2 linked regions of the Homo sapiens genome follow. The protein of the gene in region 2 binds, or shares a complex with, the protein of the main gene of each other region. Each region holds a gene or a part of one and is shown on either strand. Other genes may lie near its edges.

Region 1 (8,287 bases), on a different chromosome or scaffold from region 2:
GCTAGGGAGGGCTCAGGGCAATAGCTAGCCAATATTCAGGGGTCCCCATCCCCCGGATCATGGACCGGCACCCATCTGTGGCCTGTTAGGAACCAGGCTTCACATCAGGAGGTGAGCAGCAGTTCAGCCAGCATTACTGCCTGAGCTCCGCCTCCTGTCAGATCAGCAGTGGCATTAGATTCTCATAGGAGCTTGAACCCTGTTGTGAACTGTGCATGCGAGGGATCTAGGTTGCATGCTTCTTATGAGAATCTAATGCCCGATGATCTGAGGTGGAACAGTTTCATTCCCCAGTCCATGGAAAAATTGCCTTCTACGAAACTGGTCCCTGGTGCCAAAAAGGTTGGGGACCACTGAATATTTTAACAACTAGCCCAGCTCAGCAGCTGAGCACCAGCCTGGAGCAATTTCAGGCATTTCTCATCAGGTTACTTCCAGCAAGCTATCTCCCCTAAGGCCTTGGAGCATGTGAAATACACACACACACACACACACACACACACACACACACACACCCCTTTTAAGATGATTAATTCACTTCTTTCTTACACAGTCCCTTTTACAGCTATGCCCTGCTTGTGACTCCACCCTGAGACCTCATTTGAGCCTTGACATCAGCTTCCCCCCACCCCCTGCCTTCCTTCCTCTCCCTCAGCAATGTTTAATCTGCTTGCTAAACCAGGGAGAGGTGTGGGGCACGGAGATGCCAGGCAAGCCAGCAAACACGAAGAACAAATGGTTTGGCGTTTGCCTTATCAGGAAGTGTCCACAGGCTTCCAAGAACTGCAGAGGCTGTGGGAGGGCCAGGGACGGACATGTGGGGGAAGAGACAGGAATGTAGAATCCCAAGCTGGAAGAAGCCTCAGAATTCAGCTAGTGTGATCTCTCCACACACAGAATTTCTTTGCAAAGGCTGATGGAAAAGTTAAGAGTCAACAATAACAATAGTAATAATGAACTCCCACTTATGAGGACCTACGCTGGGCCATGACCTTATGTCACTTTCAGCCAGGAACTCTGCAAGGCTGGAATCAGCATCCCTTTCACAGATGAGGAAACAGCATTCCTTGCCCAAGGACTGAGCATGGAACTCAGAGGTCAGGGATCTATTCTGGGCCCTTCTAAATTCTAGCTGTAAAGACCTTGGGTATGTCCTTTCACCTGTGGGAGACTTAGTTTCCCTGTATTGCAAGGAGGGTCATGTCTCCTCTCCGATGCACACTTTTGCTGCAAAGGCTAAATGCAACGATGGCTTGGAAAAGAGTTTAGGGGCCAGGCGCAGTGGCTCACACCTGTAATCCCAGCACTTTGGGAGGCAGAGGCGGGCAGATCACTTGAAGTCAGGAGATCAAGACCAGGCTGGCCAAACATGGTGAAACCCCGTCTCTACTAAAAATACAAAAATTAGCCAGGCATGGTGGCATGCACCTGTAATCCCAGCTACTTGGGAGATTGAGGCCGGAGAATTGCTTGAACCCAGGAGGCAGAGGTTGCAGTGAGCTGACATCGTGCCACTGCACTCCAGCCTGGGCAACAGAGTGAGACTCCATCTCAAAAAAAAAAAAAAAAAGAGAGAGAGAGAGAGAGAGAGTTTAGGGGCCAGAAACGCACATAGTGGAGTGACGCTGATTGCTGATTAGGGAGAAGGTATGTATGAAGCACCTGGCAGTTGTTTAAGTGCAGCCATCGTGACCACACTGTGCAACTCTGCTCCCTATAGGTACTGCCAGCTAGGGGCTCGTGGTGGCTTTGGTTCATGGCCTCAGCCTGATTGTCCTTGGCTGCTCTCACGGTTCCCCCAGGCTCCCTTTCCCTGTTAAACATGAATCCCTTCTACTCCCCTCAGCAAAATAGCTCTTCCTGTGTCCCAGTGTCTCAGCCTCCAAACCTCTCTGGGTAGTATGCAGTGTTCTCAGGACACTTTCCAACTTCATTTTTGTGGATGCCCTAGAGAAGGTGCTCATTTTCCTGGCAGGGCAGAGGCTGAGCAAGCAGCCTGGAAGATATTCTGCTGGGGCATTTGGGGAATCAGGGGATGGTCTTTCTGGATGGTGACAGGGGTCCTCCCTCAGCTATGCCCCATGGGTAGGGGCTGTGTGATTGTGGACAAGTCATTGTCTTGCTTACCCTCAGATGCTTAGTCTATAAAAGGGAGTTGTTCCCCGGGTGCAGTGGCTCAAGCCTCTAATCCCAGCACTTTGAGAGGCTGAGGTGGGTGGATCGCTTGAGCCCAGGAGTTCAAGACCAGTGTGGGCAACATGGCGAAACCCCATCTCTACTAAACAAATACAAAAAATTAGCCGGACATGGTGGCACATGCCTGTAATCCCAACTACTCAGGAGGCTGAGGCACACGGACCGCTTGAACCCAGGAGGTGGAGGTTGCAGTGAGCTGGGATCACACCGCTGCACTCCAGACTGGGTGACAGAGTGAGACTCGGTCTCAAGATAAATAAATAAATAATAAATAAATAAAATGGGGTTTTTAATACCCACCTCACAGGGCACCGAGCAGATGAGATGATGCAATCTATGTGCTCCCCCTTCTGGGACCCTATTACAGGTCTGCTGGGATATTTTCTCCTCGTTAGGTGTGAGGGTTCAATTCCCTGCCCCAAGGAGGTGTCTTAAAAGAGAGATGCCCAAGAGGGAGAGACCCCAGATCATGGGTCCCAGGTGTGCCCCCTCCTCCACTCCCACCCTGAGCTCCATGACTCCAGGTTACTTACTGGATTTTCTTTGTGAAGTTCTTAGAAACAATGCCACCTTCTTGCTGTTTCTCTTCATGTTTGCCTGGAAGGAAGAAAAGTGTGGCGTGTCAGCATCTATGTTCCTTGGGCATCCTTCAGGACTGAGGCTTGGGTTCAAATCCTGGCCCTGGACCTGCCTTGCTGTGTGACTTAGGCCTACCCTAGAGACTCTAGTTATCTAAGCCTCAAGGACCTTGTCTGCCATACAGACCCACCTAAGTCCACTTCCAAGGCTGGCTATGAAGGTGAAATAAGATAATTGATGGAAAGGAGGCGTAGACCGTGGTTTGTAGTTAATTAAGGGTTAGTCTGAGGAAATCGCAGAAACTTCTGTGTTGTACCAAATCTTCCATGTGTTGTACCAAATCTTCCAAGTCTCCCACCTGACTCCTCTTCTCTAACCTGCCAGTAGAACCCTGGGTCTGACATCCCAGACTGGATGGCAGGCTTGAAGCGGGGTCACATGCTGAGGGCGACTCTGCCATGTAGCTTGCTTTATAGCTAACAGAGTGCTTTCCTAACTCTGAGCCCAGACGTCGTTCTCCCTTTGTTTCCAACATGGAAACTGAGGCTTGGTGATGGATCCAGGGTCGCCCAGCAGGTCCCTGGTGGCTCTGAGCTTTGAATCAGCTCTCTCTGAGTCTAGGCCAAGTTCTAGGTCCTGATGCCTCTCTGCTCTTGAATTTCTGTCTGTTCCAGCTCCCGATTAGCTCTTTAAGCCACATTATCTGTACCCAGTAGTGAAAGCACAGCCTGGAAAAAGAATGCTTCAATCTGCCAAAAACACCCAGCTTTTCCTAAGGGCACTGTGGATGTGAAATTCCACCAGACCTCTCGCCTCTTAACCTGTGGTAAGAGAGGGCTTCCCAACCCCCTCAGGGAGGAAAAAGATGAAATTACAAGAAGACTTGGGCCTAAACTGGTTTTGATCTTGTAATGTATATAGCACATTCTAATTCTCTCGGTCTCTCCTCATTCTTTTTTTCTTTAATAGAGAGAGTGTCTGTAGTTTCTCTTTAAACAAACAAGATTAGTACAACAGTGGGGCCATTCGGCTGTTACTTTTCACTCCTCATTTGTGGGGCCACCTTCTGGAGGCAAGAACCCTCATTTACACAGGGAGGTGCTTCTGAGGGGCCTTGAAATCTAGAATGTAAACAACTTTGTTGAATATAGCAGTCCAGATTTTTTTAAACTGACAACTTATAGCTAATTACTTTTAATTATTTCTTTGTTAATAGCTTTTTTTGTGCTTTAAGATAGTGCATGTGTATGTTAGAAAATGCAGAAAATAGGCCGGGCATAGTGGCTCACTCTTATAATGTCTGCACTTTGGGAGACTGAGACAGGAGGATGACTCGAGGCCAGGAGTTTGAGACCAGCCTGGACAACATAGAGAGGCACTGTTTCTAAAAATAATAATAATAATAATAATAGGCAGGGCGTGGTGACTTATGCCTGTAATCCCAGCACTTTGGGAGGCCGAGGCAGGTGGATCACGAGGTCAAGAGATCGAGACCTTCCTGGCCAACACGGTGAAACTCCGTCTCTACTAAAAATACAAAAATTAGCTGGACATGGTGGCACGTGCCTATAGTCCCAGCTACTTGGGAGGCTGAGGCAGGAGAATTGCTTGAACCCGGGAGGCAGAGGTTGCAGTGAGGCGAGATCGCGCCACTGCGCTCCAGCCCAGCAAAAGGGTGAGACTCTGTCTCAAAATAATAATAATAATTACTATTATTATTATTATCCAGGTGTGATGGTGTGTGCCTGTAGTCCTAGCTATTTGGGAGGCTGAGGTGGGAAGATTGCTTGAGCCCAGGAGTTTGAGGTTACAGTAAGCTATAATGCACCACTGCACTCCAGCCTGGGCAACAGAGTGAGATCTGGTCTCTAAATTTAAAAAAAACAACAATAACAAAAGAAAAAATTAAAAAAAAAAGCCATCAAAACTACTTATAATCCTGTCACCCCACGGAAGCTATTAATAATATCTTTTATATGTTCCGACTTTTCTATGTTTCTCAGAAATGTGTAAATGTTACATAGTATCCATGTATATCAGTATTCTATCAAATGGGATAGTTCTCTGCATTATGTTTGGAACTTATTTTTCTCTCTTGCTAACACATTATAATTACTTTTCCATATTACCAAATATTCTTTGACAACATAATTTTTAATGGCTGCAGTGTTCTATTGAGGAATACATAAGAGCTAATTTAACCAATCCCCTACTTTGGGGTGCTGAAGAGTTTCCAACGTTGGCGAGAACTTCGTGGCCCTGAACATTCTTGTAGCTAGAACCTCACACCAGGCCGCCCTATGACTTCTTTAGGATTAACTGAGGACTAATGCAACTTCCAGAATTTCTAAGGCTTAATCTATGTTCCTAAATTGCTCTCAGCAAAAGAAATTCATTTTAAACTGGAGTGTCTGGCTAACCAGAACATGCTATCCTGTGAATGTGTGGCCGCTTAAAGAGTCTACCTTGTGCTGCCAACTCCATGACCACCAACTGCCTGGCTCTAGCACAGGCCTGTGCCCAGAAGAGCACTGTCTGTTCTTTGGTACCCTCCCCACAGCCAGGGCGCCGGGAGACCTGCTTCCCCTGGGGACAGGCCAGTGCCTCTGACTCAGCCCTTTTGCATCCTAGAATCCTCCTGCATGCTGGTGTCCTGGGAATAAAAACTGATAATATAAATAATAATAGCAAGTAATATAGCGCTTCCTTGGTGTCAGCCACTGTTCTAAGCACCTTATCTGTATCAACTCCTTTAATTTTTGCAACAACCTTAAATAATAATAGTAAAATAATAATATAAGCAGGCATTTTCATTATTGTCATTTTGTAGATAGGAAACCCGAAGTTCAGAGAGGTTAAGTGCTGTATCCAAGGTCACACAGCTTGGAAGTGACTGGTGCAAAGATTCAAAAGCAGGCAGACAGGTTCTGGAATATTGGGTGTTGGACTTAAGTCTCTACTCTGACATTTCCTGGCACATCTCTAAGTTTCTCTGAGCCTCAGTTTATTCTTCTCTGAAATGGGAATGACGACACCTATCTTACCGGGTTACCGTAGGAAGCAAATGAAAGCGAGTCACAGAATGGCTTTGGAAGTTGTAAAAGTACCATGTGAAGGTAAACACTTGTGGTTTATTTTGATGTTTGGGGAAAAGACTGCTCCTCAGAAACTAGGTGCCTCTGTCTGCTCTGAAAATAGGGTATTGGGGTGAGGGAAGGGAGGATCTCTGAGCAGGGAAAGCTCCAAGATTTCCAAAAGAGGGGCCTGGAGGTGGGGTTAACCTCATTTAAAGAGAGTGTTGCTAGGAGGATCATCTTGAAACTCAATTTGCTTATCATTTGCCTACTTAGATTGGGGCAGCTTAAGGATTATGAGTGATTTTTAATTTCTTATTTTGCTTTCCTAACTACATATTTTATCATGAAGACATTTTATTTTTGTAAACTGAAAAAAGTAATTATTATGATTTTTAGAAATACATCCAGAGGCTAGGAGAAGTCAGAAACCCCTTGCAGACATGCTTTTTTCAACATGCCTCAGAGAAATGTAGGTGGAACACTATTGGCCCAGCTAAAGAAAGAAAGTGCTGTTTCCAGGGAAGGCAGAGTCCCTGGGACTAAGGAGAAGGGGTGGAAATAAGGCCTTGGGGCTTTCCAGTCTCTATCTTAGCCAGGGTCTGGCCCAGTGGCCCATGAAGGGAACATTTCTTGGCTGGTGGTTGCAGGATGGGGGTAGGGGAATCTGAGGCTTGCTGGAAATTGTCTAGTCCAGCATTTTCCAAACACTTCCTTGAATGAGACACTCATACGTGGTCAGATAAGATAGGGCTGCCTCTTAGAGATTCATAAACTACATTAGTGACTTAAAGGCTCTGATAAGTCCTGCAGTGAGAAGACCTGTTTATAATTTTGTTTTTACTGGCACCATACAAGACCTTGAACTCTCCTGCTCCTGTTTCTAGATGCCTAGTAACAGCTTGAAGTACATTGGTAAATTCTGATCTTGTCTACCTCTTCATAAGACCAACAGTAAAACTGAGGCTCCAGAGGCTGTGGGATTTGCTCAGGGCCACACCGCCAGAAGTAGATCCAGCCATCCTGACTCAGAACCAGCCAGAGAGGCCTGACATTGAATGTCAGACACTGCCAGGGAGAAGTGGGTAATCTCAGGTGAGTTACTTTCTCTGGGCCTCGGCTTCCTTATCTGTATAATGGGGTTAACAAACCTACCCACACTTCCTAGGAGGTCCTTGTGAGGAACCACTGAGCCACCACATGTAGGCCTTTAGCACGTGCTTGTGGAGGAACGGATTTGTCATTTTGTGGTATAGGGTGGGAAACTGGATCTGACTTCCAACTTCCCTTGAAAATTGCTTTTTATTTATTTTTATTTTTTATTTTTTTTGAGACAGAATTTCTTTCTTGTTGCCCAGGCTGGAATGCAGTGGCACGGTCTCAGCTCACTGCAACCTCCACCTCCCAGGTTCAAGCGATTCTCCTGCCTCAGACTCCTGAGTAGCTGGGATTACAGGCGCTCACCACCACACCCGGCTAATTTTTGTATTTTTAGTAGAACGGGGTTTCGCCATGTTGACCAGACTGGTCTCAGACTCCTGACCTTAAGCGATCCTCCCGCCTTGGCCTCCCAAAATGCTGGGATTACAGGCATGAGCCACCGCACCCGGCCCGAAAGTTGCTTCTTAAATAGAGCTCCTGATATCAATTTTATTTTTAAACCCCTTTTATGAAAGCCCTTGTATGGACTCTCAGGGAATTTGGATTTTGTCTAGCCGATGTCACTAATTGCATGTCTGAAAAGCTTTGTCTTTGTCTTATTTAAGCTCCCAATGACCCCATTTTACAGACGTGGAAATTGAGACTGCATGACTCACCCAAAGCCTCTGGATTAGTAAGATACTTAGCTGAGATCTCAACATGGAGCTGCCAGACCCCACCTGTTATGAAGCACCTACAAAAGAGGATGGTGAAAAACCCTCCAGGCTGGACAGAGGGTCTCCTAGAGGGACCACAGGGTGGAGTCGACCCTTGGACTTGGGCTAGAAGCATCTAAGACCCTAATTAAAACAAGGACAGAAGGAATGGTGATAATCGGTCTGTTTACAGAGTGCCAGGCAAGCACTATTATTAGCTCCATTTTATAGACACTCCGCATATATTATCATAGATAGTCTGCATATGTTTAATCTTTCCTACACCCTTACAGGACAGATATTATTATGGTCTCCATTCTGCAAATAGGAGAAATGAGGCTCAGAGGGATGAAGACTTTCTCGTCCACATCCGCCATGCTAGTGAACAGCAGTGCTGGGATCTGAACCCAGGTTTCAAAGAGCATCTATTATTCATTATTTATTGGGGCCTTCCTGGATGCCTGACACTATAACAATAACGACGACAATAATAATACTAATTCCTTGTGTTCCAGGTCATAGAATGTGAAAGGAAAATAAATCTTGGGGCCCCCAAATCACTAAGCTAAAGGGAAAAGTCAA
Region 2 (9,109 bases):
CAGGAGGATGAAGAAGAGAGATGCCACAGGTAATACCTGATGATGAAGGGGGGTCAGCCAGGCAAAGAGAGCGGGAGGCCATTGGGTGTTGGAGAGAAGGGCTCTCCAGGTGGAGGAAGCAGGGTGGGCAGAGGCAAGGGCAGGCTGTGTCAGTGCCTGCATGATATGGTGCAGCAAGGCCAGCCAGAGTGCACACCAGGCTGAGGGGAGGAAGGTCTTGTGTACACCAAGCCAAGGAGTGTGGAGTCAACAGAGAGGCATTAAAGAATTCTAGGCAGAGAAGGGGCAAGGCCTGTTTTGTGCTTGAAAGATTGCTCTGGCTACCATGTGGGCAACGAATTGGAGATGAACAAGATTAGAGGCTGGTTTACGTGACCAACTGCTTACGCACACACACAGACACACACACATACACACATACACACACACACACACAAAGATTAGAGTCTGGGAGATCCATCAGGAGGCCGTGCCAAGATCCAGATGACAGGCAAAGGTAACCTGGACGGGTTGGTGGCACTAAAGACAGACAGGAGTTCACAATCAAGGAATATCTAGGAAGTGGAATCCACAGATTTAAGGATAATTAAATGGGCCAGGCACGGTGGCTCACATCTGTAATCTCAGCATTTTGGGAGGCCAAGGCAGGAGGATCACCTGAGGTCAAGAGTTCAAGACCAGCCTGGCCAACATGGTGAAACCCTGTCTCTACTAAAAATACAAAAATTAGCTGGGCATGGTGGCGGGTGCCTATAATCCCAGCTACTCGGTAGGCTGAGGCAGGAGAATCGCCTGAGCCAGGGAGGCGGAAGTTGCAGTGAGCCGAGATCACGCCACTGCACTCCAGCCTGGGTGACAGAGCAAGTCTCAAAAAAAAAGGATAATTAAATGGTGAGGGGCAAAAGAAATTTAGGGTTATGCTTAAGCTTCTGATCTGGGCAGATGAACTCCAGGAGGCCTAAAGAGGGAGTGTCTGAGGGCCTGGAGAAAAGAAAAAGCCACCGAGGACAGACATGATGCTCAGTATTCAACGTGGCTCAAAGCAGCTTCTTCCAGCCAGCTCTCCAAGACTTGTGTCTCTGTTTTAGACAAACCCTGCGGAAGTCCCTAGCGGAGGATAACTCTTCTGCGGTGAGCAGGTCTATGCACACCTACCCTCAAAGGCTGAGGAAACTGAGAAGCTGAAGAAAGAGGTGGACAAATCCAGTTTCTCAGAGAGAAACACTTAATAGGGACTTACAAACACAAGCCATGTCCTGGATGGCTGCAAGACAAGATGGCGGGTCCCTGCACTGTTACCCTGAAGTCCCAGGGCTTGTATACCACAGGGAATTCGCCACAGGCAGGATTTATAGTAAGTATGTGTTTACAGTAACACCAACGTTATTTTGACCGAAGGGTAAGTATGTGAAAATAGAAATCTTAGAGGCATTCCTGGAACGGGTTCATCAGAAACGAACATGGCAGATGAGCATCCAGGATGGAGCTGCTTTAGCCTCCAGAGCAACTGTCAGAAGCAGCTATGTTAATCCCAGAGTAACCTGCTTCCTCCCTGCTGCTTCTTTCAGGGGAAAAATGGCCAACACCACTTTCAGTATTTGTTTGTTTATTGAGACAGAGTCTTCCTCTGTTGCGCAGGCTGAAGTGCAGTGGCGTGATCTCAGCTCACTGCAAACTCCGCTCCCCGGGTTCCAGCGATTCTCCTGCCTCAGCCTCCCAAGTACCTGGGATTACAGGCACCCACCATCATGCCCGACTAATTTTTGTATTTTTAGTAGAGACGGGGTTTCACTATGTTGGCCAGGCTGGTCTCAAACTCCTGACCTCAAGTGATCCCCCCCACCTCTGCCTCCCAAAGTGCTGGGATTACAGGCATGAACCACCACACCCAGCCTCTGTGTTTATTTAAACTGTAGTTACTTAAACTGTAGTGGAAAGCAAATTGAGCAAGGAAGAAGATAGAAATAAAATTTCACTCTGGATTCAATCTTCGATAAACATCAACATTTATTGAATATGGACTCTGGGTTCAGGGCTGCAGACATAAGGAAGCATAAGGCAGACACTGACTAGTGAATTTGGGGGTCTAGTTCCTTCAACAGTAATATTTCCTATGGGAAACTAGTGCACTGACATTCGGGTTTATACACCTGTCTCTAACATGTTTGGTGACCTGCATCAGTCCCTGGGGCCTGATCATCACTGGAGTTACTGGACTCCAAAGCGGATAAGCATACTTTTACAAGTGAGAATCATTCCATTGGAAATGATAGGCAGGCCTCTCTGGCATTTTCTCCAGAAGGAGTAAGCTGAGGGCAGGAAGGGGCAGAGGTATTGACTGGGGTTCGAGGATATTCTCTGATTCCGAATTGAAAACTAGGCCCAATATTAGTTCAAAGCGTTTCTGGGGAAGGGAATGAGTCAGTATGTCTAAAGATCTAAAATGTCACCTCCCAAACATTCTCTCTTTCTGGAACACAGTCTCTCTTTCCCAGGGGAATTGGGGTGCTCATTGACGTTTGTTAAATAAAAGTTATAAGAGGTCACTGTTTTGGACTAAGCTCCTGCATTTGGCCTTAACAAACCCGACGAAAAATCAGAAAGGAGTCACTCATGCTAAAGTTCCACATCACCAAACCAAAACCAAGTTGTTATCTGACTTTCTGAGAAATCAGGAGAGGTGATAGTCTAATTTCCCAAACAGGCTACTTTCGAATGAGGGGTGAGGGTTGGGGAGTGACAGGAGGTGGCTGGGGGCACCAACTCCGTGCAGTCGAAAATCCCTGCAAAGCTGGGCGAGGTGGCTCATGCTTGTAATCCCAGCACTTTGGGAGACGGAGACGAGTGGATCACTTGAGACCAGGAGTTTGAGACCAGCCTGGCCAACATGGCAAAACCCTGTCTCTACTAAAAATACAAAAATTAGCCAGGCATGGTGGTGCACACCTGTAATCCCAGCTACTCAAGAGGCTGAGGCAGGACAATCGCTTGAACCCAGGAGGCAGAGGTTACAGTGAGCTGAGATTGCCCCACTGCACTCCAGTCTGGGAGAGAGAGCAAGAACCTGTCTCAAAAAAATAAATAAATAAAATAAATAAAATAAGAAAAGAAAGGAAAAAAGAAAATCCCTGCATACTTTTTTGTTTGTTTGTTTTTGAACTGGAGTCTGGCTCTGTCGCCCAGGCTGGAGTGCAGTGGCATGATCTTGGCTCACTGCAACCTCCGCCTCCTGGGTTCAAGCAGTTCTGCCTCGGCCTCCCGAGTAGCTGGATTACAGGCATGTGCCACACGTCCAGCTAATTTTTGTATTTTTAGTAGAGTTGGGGTTTCACCATGTTGGCCAGGCTGGTCTCAAATTTCTGATCTCAAGTGATCCGCCGCTTGGCCTCCCAAAGTGCTGGGATTACAGGCGTGAGCCACCATGCCCCGCCCCTGCATACTTTGAATCTCCCAAAACTACCAATAGCCTACTCTTGACGGAAAGCCTTGCCAATAACATGAACAGTCAATTAACACATATGTTGTATATGTATTATATGTATTCGTGCAATAAAGTAAGCTAGAGAAAAGAACATGTTAAGAAAATCATAAGGAAGAGATTTTACATTTACATAAGGAAGAGTAGTACACTTACTACTCATTTAGTGGACGTGATCATCATAAACGTCATCATCCTCATTATCTTCACGTGGAGGCTGAGGAGGGGAAGGAAGAGGAAGGGTTGATTCTCCTGTCAAGGGGTGGCAGAGACAGAAGAGGTGGAGGAGGTGGAAGGGGAGACTGGAGAGGCAAGCACATCGGTGTAACTTTTATTGAAAAAAAATCCATGTACAAGTGGACCTGCTCAATTCAAACCCATGTTAAGGGTCAACTGTACAGTAATCTGAAGTATGTAACCTGATGTTACATTTCTCTCAATCATTTCTCTCTTTCTTTCTCTCTCTTTCTTTTAAAGAGATAGGGTCTTGCTCTGTCGCTTAGGTTGGCATGAAGAGCAAAATCATAGCTCATGGCAGCTTCAAACTCCTGGGCTCAAATGAGCCTCCCACCTCAGCCTCCTGAGTAGCTGGGACTACAGGCATAAGCCACTGCACCTGGCTTATTTTTTGTTTATGCAGAGATGGGGGTCTTACTGTGTTGTCCAGGCTGGTCTCAAACTCCTGGACTCAAGAGGTCCTCCAGTCTTGACTTTCCAAAGTGCTGGCATTATAGGCATGAGCCATGGTGGCAAGCCCTCATCAGTTATTTTTCTATGATTCTGTCTCTCTGTCCCCTCCTTACAAGGAAAGTAATTTTGAAACAACCAATCCAGTCTTGGTTCTTTGTTTCTGCTTTCTTCAGCCCTTCTCTGTCTATAAAACCAACCTCTTCTGCTCAGCTCATGGGAGCACTTATTCTAATTTAATGGAGATGTTGCCCAATTTCTAGAATCACAAATAAGATCTTTAACAATAAAAGTTAAAAAATGAAAATCAACAACAACAACAACAAAAAAGATCTTTAAATGTGTTGTAATTTTCTCCTTTGACAGGTTACAAGTGCAATTGAATAAACCAAACAAAAAATGTCATGGTTATTCGGTCTTTACTTCCCAAATCAGGGTCAAGATATAAGATAGCAAGAACCAATCTCTACCATAAAAAAGATCCAGACCCAAGAAAATGTGATTTATCTTTAAAGCTGCAACGAAACTTTCTTTTTAGTCTAGGAGACTAAAAGCCATCAGTTGATACAATCTCTTTTTTTCTTGAAGTTTCCAAAGGAAGGCAGGTGAGTTTGCACTGACTTCCATTTTCTCCCTGGCTTCCTTCCGGTGTCAGATGAGAGTCCCCGCGCTCCTCCCGGACAGCCCTCAGGGTCCTCGGCTATCATATATGGGGGAGGGGGTGGAGGTGGGCGAGATGGTTTTGTTTGTACAGGAAGGACGGGCGGCAGGCACGGGGAGCACGGGCTCCGGCCCCGGGAACACTCACTCGGCGCAAAGGAGAGGGAGAGAGCGACTATGAAAGCCGAAACCCGCCCGGGGCGCACGGAGGACGGCCCCAGTCCAGCTCGTCCGGCTTCCCACCCGCAGGCGGACCCCGAAGCCGCGCCCGCGCCCGCCCGCGGCGACTCCGGCCCGGGCACGCGCACGAGTCGGAAGGGGGAGGGGCGGGAGGAGGTGGGGGAGGGGCGAGCGGGCCGAGGCCCCGCCCCCGCTCCTCTGCCCCGCCCGCCGCGATTATAGCCGATGACTCAGGGCGGAGCTCCGCATCCAACCCCGGGCCGCGGCCAACTTCTCTGGACTGGACCAGAAGTTTCTAGCCGGCCAGTTGCTACCTCCCTTTATCTCCTCCTTCCCCTCTGGCAGCGAGGAGGCTATTTCCAGACACTTCCACCCCTCTCTGGCCACGTCACCCCCGCCTTTAATTCATAAAGGTGCCCGGCGCCGGCTTCCCGGACACGTCGGCGGCGGAGAGGGGCCCACGGCGGCGGCCCGGCCAGAGACTCGGCGCCCGGAGCCAGCGCCCCGCACCCGCGCCCCAGCGGGCAGACCCCAACCCAGCATGAGCGCCGCCACCCACTCGCCCATGATGCAGGTGGCGTCCGGCAACGGTGACCGCGACCCTTTGCCCCCCGGATGGGAGATCAAGATCGACCCGCAGACCGGCTGGCCCTTCTTCGTGGACCACAACAGCCGCACCACTACGTGGAACGACCCGCGCGTGCCCTCTGAGGGCCCCAAGGTGAGCCGGGCCCGCGGCCCGCCCTGGTCGGTGGCGCCACCTCGACGGCAGGCGGCGGGGAGTGGGCTGGGCCGGGGGGACGCGAGGCGGCGGGGCCCGGGGGTCGGCGAAGGCCCCTCGCGGGCGGACACCGGCTCCGCGCCCCGCCACACACTCCCGCTGCGCCCGGACGAGTCCCCGCTCCGGACCCGCCCTTGACAGGCGTCGGGGCGAAAGGAGGCCCCGGGATTCGGTGGCCCGGGAAGCGACCCCGCAGTGGCTCCGGTGCCGTCCACGGCTCGACTCCAGGGCGGAAGGCCGGGTGTCCAGCGCTGGCCTCGCGCTCTAGGGCTGGGAGAGGGGCGGCCGGCCTGGTCAGCTCCGGAGGCCCCGGCCCACCGTGGCCCCTGCTGCCCGCTCGGCCTCCGGGCCCGGGACCCGCGGCGCACCCTGCTGACCGCGGACTCGAGGGGGACACTCGCAAGCTTGGATGGTGGTTTTGGGGGGAATTTTACCGCTCAAGTTCTCCAACTTGGTTGAGGGGTATCTTGGCTACTGTCCCATGTTAGGCACCCAATGACTCTGGAGGCTGGTGTCAAAACATTCATATATATATGTGTGTGTGTGTATTTTAAATTAAAATTGTATTATTGTTTGAAAGTGCTTTCAATATGAACGTATCCTAGTATGATTTGTAAAATAAAAAACAGGGTGTGCTTCTCCCCAGCAGTTTCTAGAGATCTAGACTAGAGATCTGAGACTGTCTTACAGTTGGCCATTGCCTTACCACATTGCCTCACACTGGAGAGAAAGAGAATGATACGTGTATATTTATAATGGCATTCGCTTCCTGCCTTGTTATGGTATTAAAATACTTAGGATTTGTTACCAGTACACAAATAACTGACTAATGATACTCTTGTGAATACAGCAGAAGTATGTCTCATTTACATACATGCAAGGATATATACTTCTTAATCCCCAAGAGCATGAAATTTGAAAATGTAAATTTGGAATGAGTGTGTTAATTTTCAAAAATCAGAGTTAGTTATACTATTCTTTCAATTTTTTATAAATTTGAGCTTTCAGGATAAAAAGTTTTTAAAATAAATATGTTATACTTAAAGCTGAATTGTTAACGCCGTCTGGGCAAGATAAAAGCAGCAAAGAGCTGGTAAATTATTTTGAAGATTTAAAAACTCACCAAATTAAAACTGCTGTGTAACCCATTGTTTTAGAAGAAAGACCTGTATTATTTCCCTTCATCTTTATGCACTTTTTGTTTTAACAATATTGATAAAACTCCGGTGCCCAGCAGTGAGACCGTGTACAGGCAGCAGTTTACATTTACGAGAGATTAGTTGTATATTTATTCTTGAAAATTAGTACAAGAGGCTGTAATTAGCTGGGATGGGCACAGTTACATATACCTTTTTGTGTGTCTGTTCCACCCATTTTTGGGTGAAACTGACACTCATTTCAAACCACCTTTCTTAGGAGTCTGCGTGGATGTACATGATCTTTAGTGTGGTTTACAACTATTATTTTGAAGCCTTCTTCCTGTAGACATAGGGATAGTGGTATCTGTTGGCAGCCTTTGTTGTGAGTGAAGATCAAGTTTGAACATAAACATTCCCAGCACTTTGTTCTCAGCATGAAACTTACCCAGCAAGTTGAGATCTTCCTGTACCCACCTGGTGCATGGGTTAGGCTGTGATTTCATAAACCTTATTAAAAGAAAAAAAGCAGGTTTAGTTACCATTATTCTTGTCAGCAAATACAAAGAACTACTAAATCAGAAGTCTGATGCTGGGAAGATTTATTTGAAAATTTCACGGTCAAAATTTTAAAGTTGAAATGTCCTTGAAGATCTCTTATGTTAGGCTTCTTTATTTTCTGAAACCCAGAGAGTTCAGGTGTGACTTTGAAGGTCATCCAGCTAGTACCAACAACAGGGAGAGAACTAGTGTCAGGAAAGTCCTAATAAGAGGCAGTGTGTCTCTTCAGAAGTTGGAAGTGAGTGTTTTGGGAAACTGAGGCATGCAGGCTAGAATACTTGATTATTTTTGTGCCCTCCTGGCCACCAAGTTATTGGGTCACTGACCTCTGTGCTGAGGTTGCTTGGATTTTGATGATGGGACTGATGAACTCAAGAAAAGAGTTCCCTTTACCAAGTGAATGACTTGAGACTTGTCAGCATGGCACCAAAACTTAAGGAGAAAACTAACATTCAGCCCATGAGCTGTTTGTGCTTCATTGCTTTCAATCCTGTGCTTTGACACACACAATATCAGGTTGCACTTGTGTGAGTTACACCTTACTGGAGACTAAATGTAGTGGAAAATCCTTGAATATCATTTTGTATTTGAAATTGGCTTCTCAATGCATAATGAGAAAAAGGCCCTTGCAGAAAACAAAGGGCGATTTTGGAGGAGCTGAGCTGAGGCCCGTCTGAGCATCATCATCTTCAAGAGGAAATGCTGTCAATCAGTAAAAAGCTGTTCATTGAGCATGAGGAGCTCAAGAGACGACCTCTCTTTTGGGGGAGGACTCAGCTTCAGGATGTTTAAAATTTAATCACGTTAGTAAGAAAATGGAAAGAAAAGACTAGACCTTTGTATTTTATTTCGTCTTCTACTGCCGTCTTGCAGTTGATCTTCCGCCTTCTCCTGAAGTAGTTAGGACAACTCCCTGTTTTCACAGAGGGGCAGAGCGAAAGCAAGTATCTTCTGTCATTGCTGAAGCAGGACGGCTCCCGGCAAAGATGCTGGGCTTCATCCAGCCCCATTCTAAGCAGCTGGGCCTCCCCACCTGCAGTCTTCCTGGATTTTGATTTTCTGCACACTTGGGCTTCCCACTAATTTGGCAAGTTCATACCAGTCCAGGCCCTTTCCTGGCAGAGGATGGCATTCAGTGCTGGTGCAGCCACTCCTCCAGGCTCCTCCCTGAATAAACAGAGGCCGGATGTTCTGGAGTGCTGTTCCCGCCAGGCCTCCTTGGGATGAGAGGGAGACCTTCCTCCCTCATGGAGCAGGGCCGCTCTAGCTCCATGGATCTTGGGGGTTACCAGTCTGGCACTCTCCAGGGAGTCCTGTTAAGAACACAGATTGTGGCTGTGTCTCATCGCCTCCCTGCCCCAACCCCATGTTCAAATCTGAATTGCTCAGTGTAGGGCCCAGAAAACTATTAAGTCCAGAAAGCTTTTTTGGTGGTTCTGATTCTGCTGCACTGGCAGTGGGAGCCACGGATGGCCAGTGATCCCATTTTGGGGAGGAGGAGCTGCGGCTTAGTGCCTCCTGAACATCTATCCTGCAGAGCATTTTCCCAAGCCTCCATTTTCCTTCTTGGGGAAACTCCCCAGGTACGCGGGCTTCTGGAGGTGTGAATATGGGGATGACATGGGA

The links.
Region 1: BAG3 (region 2) and HSPB8 share a complex: the UniProt entries of both Homo sapiens proteins name them as parts of the chaperone-assisted selective autophagy (CASA) complex.

Annotation. Positions count from the first base shown.
Region 1 is NC_000012.12:119,181,531-119,189,817, reverse strand, and holds part of HSPB8 (heat shock protein beta-8), read right to left. Parts: exon of another isoform or gene 7,616-8,287; intron 6,945-7,615; exon of another isoform or gene 6,535-6,944; intron 5,892-6,534; exon of another isoform or gene 5,723-5,891; intron 2,794-5,722; coding exon 2,730-2,793; intron 1-2,729. UniProt on the Homo sapiens protein: Involved in the chaperone-assisted selective autophagy (CASA), a crucial process for protein quality control, particularly in mechanical strained cells and tissues such as muscle. Displays temperature-dependent chaperone activity.
Region 2 is NC_000010.11:119,646,130-119,655,238, forward strand, and holds the start of BAG3 (BAG family molecular chaperone regulator 3), read left to right. Parts: upstream 1-5,250; 5' UTR 5,251-5,546; coding exon 5,547-5,726; intron 5,727-9,109. UniProt on the Homo sapiens protein: Co-chaperone and adapter protein that connects different classes of molecular chaperones including heat shock proteins 70 (HSP70s), e.g. HSPA1A/HSP70 or HSPA8/HSC70, and small heat shock proteins (sHSPs), e.g. HSPB8.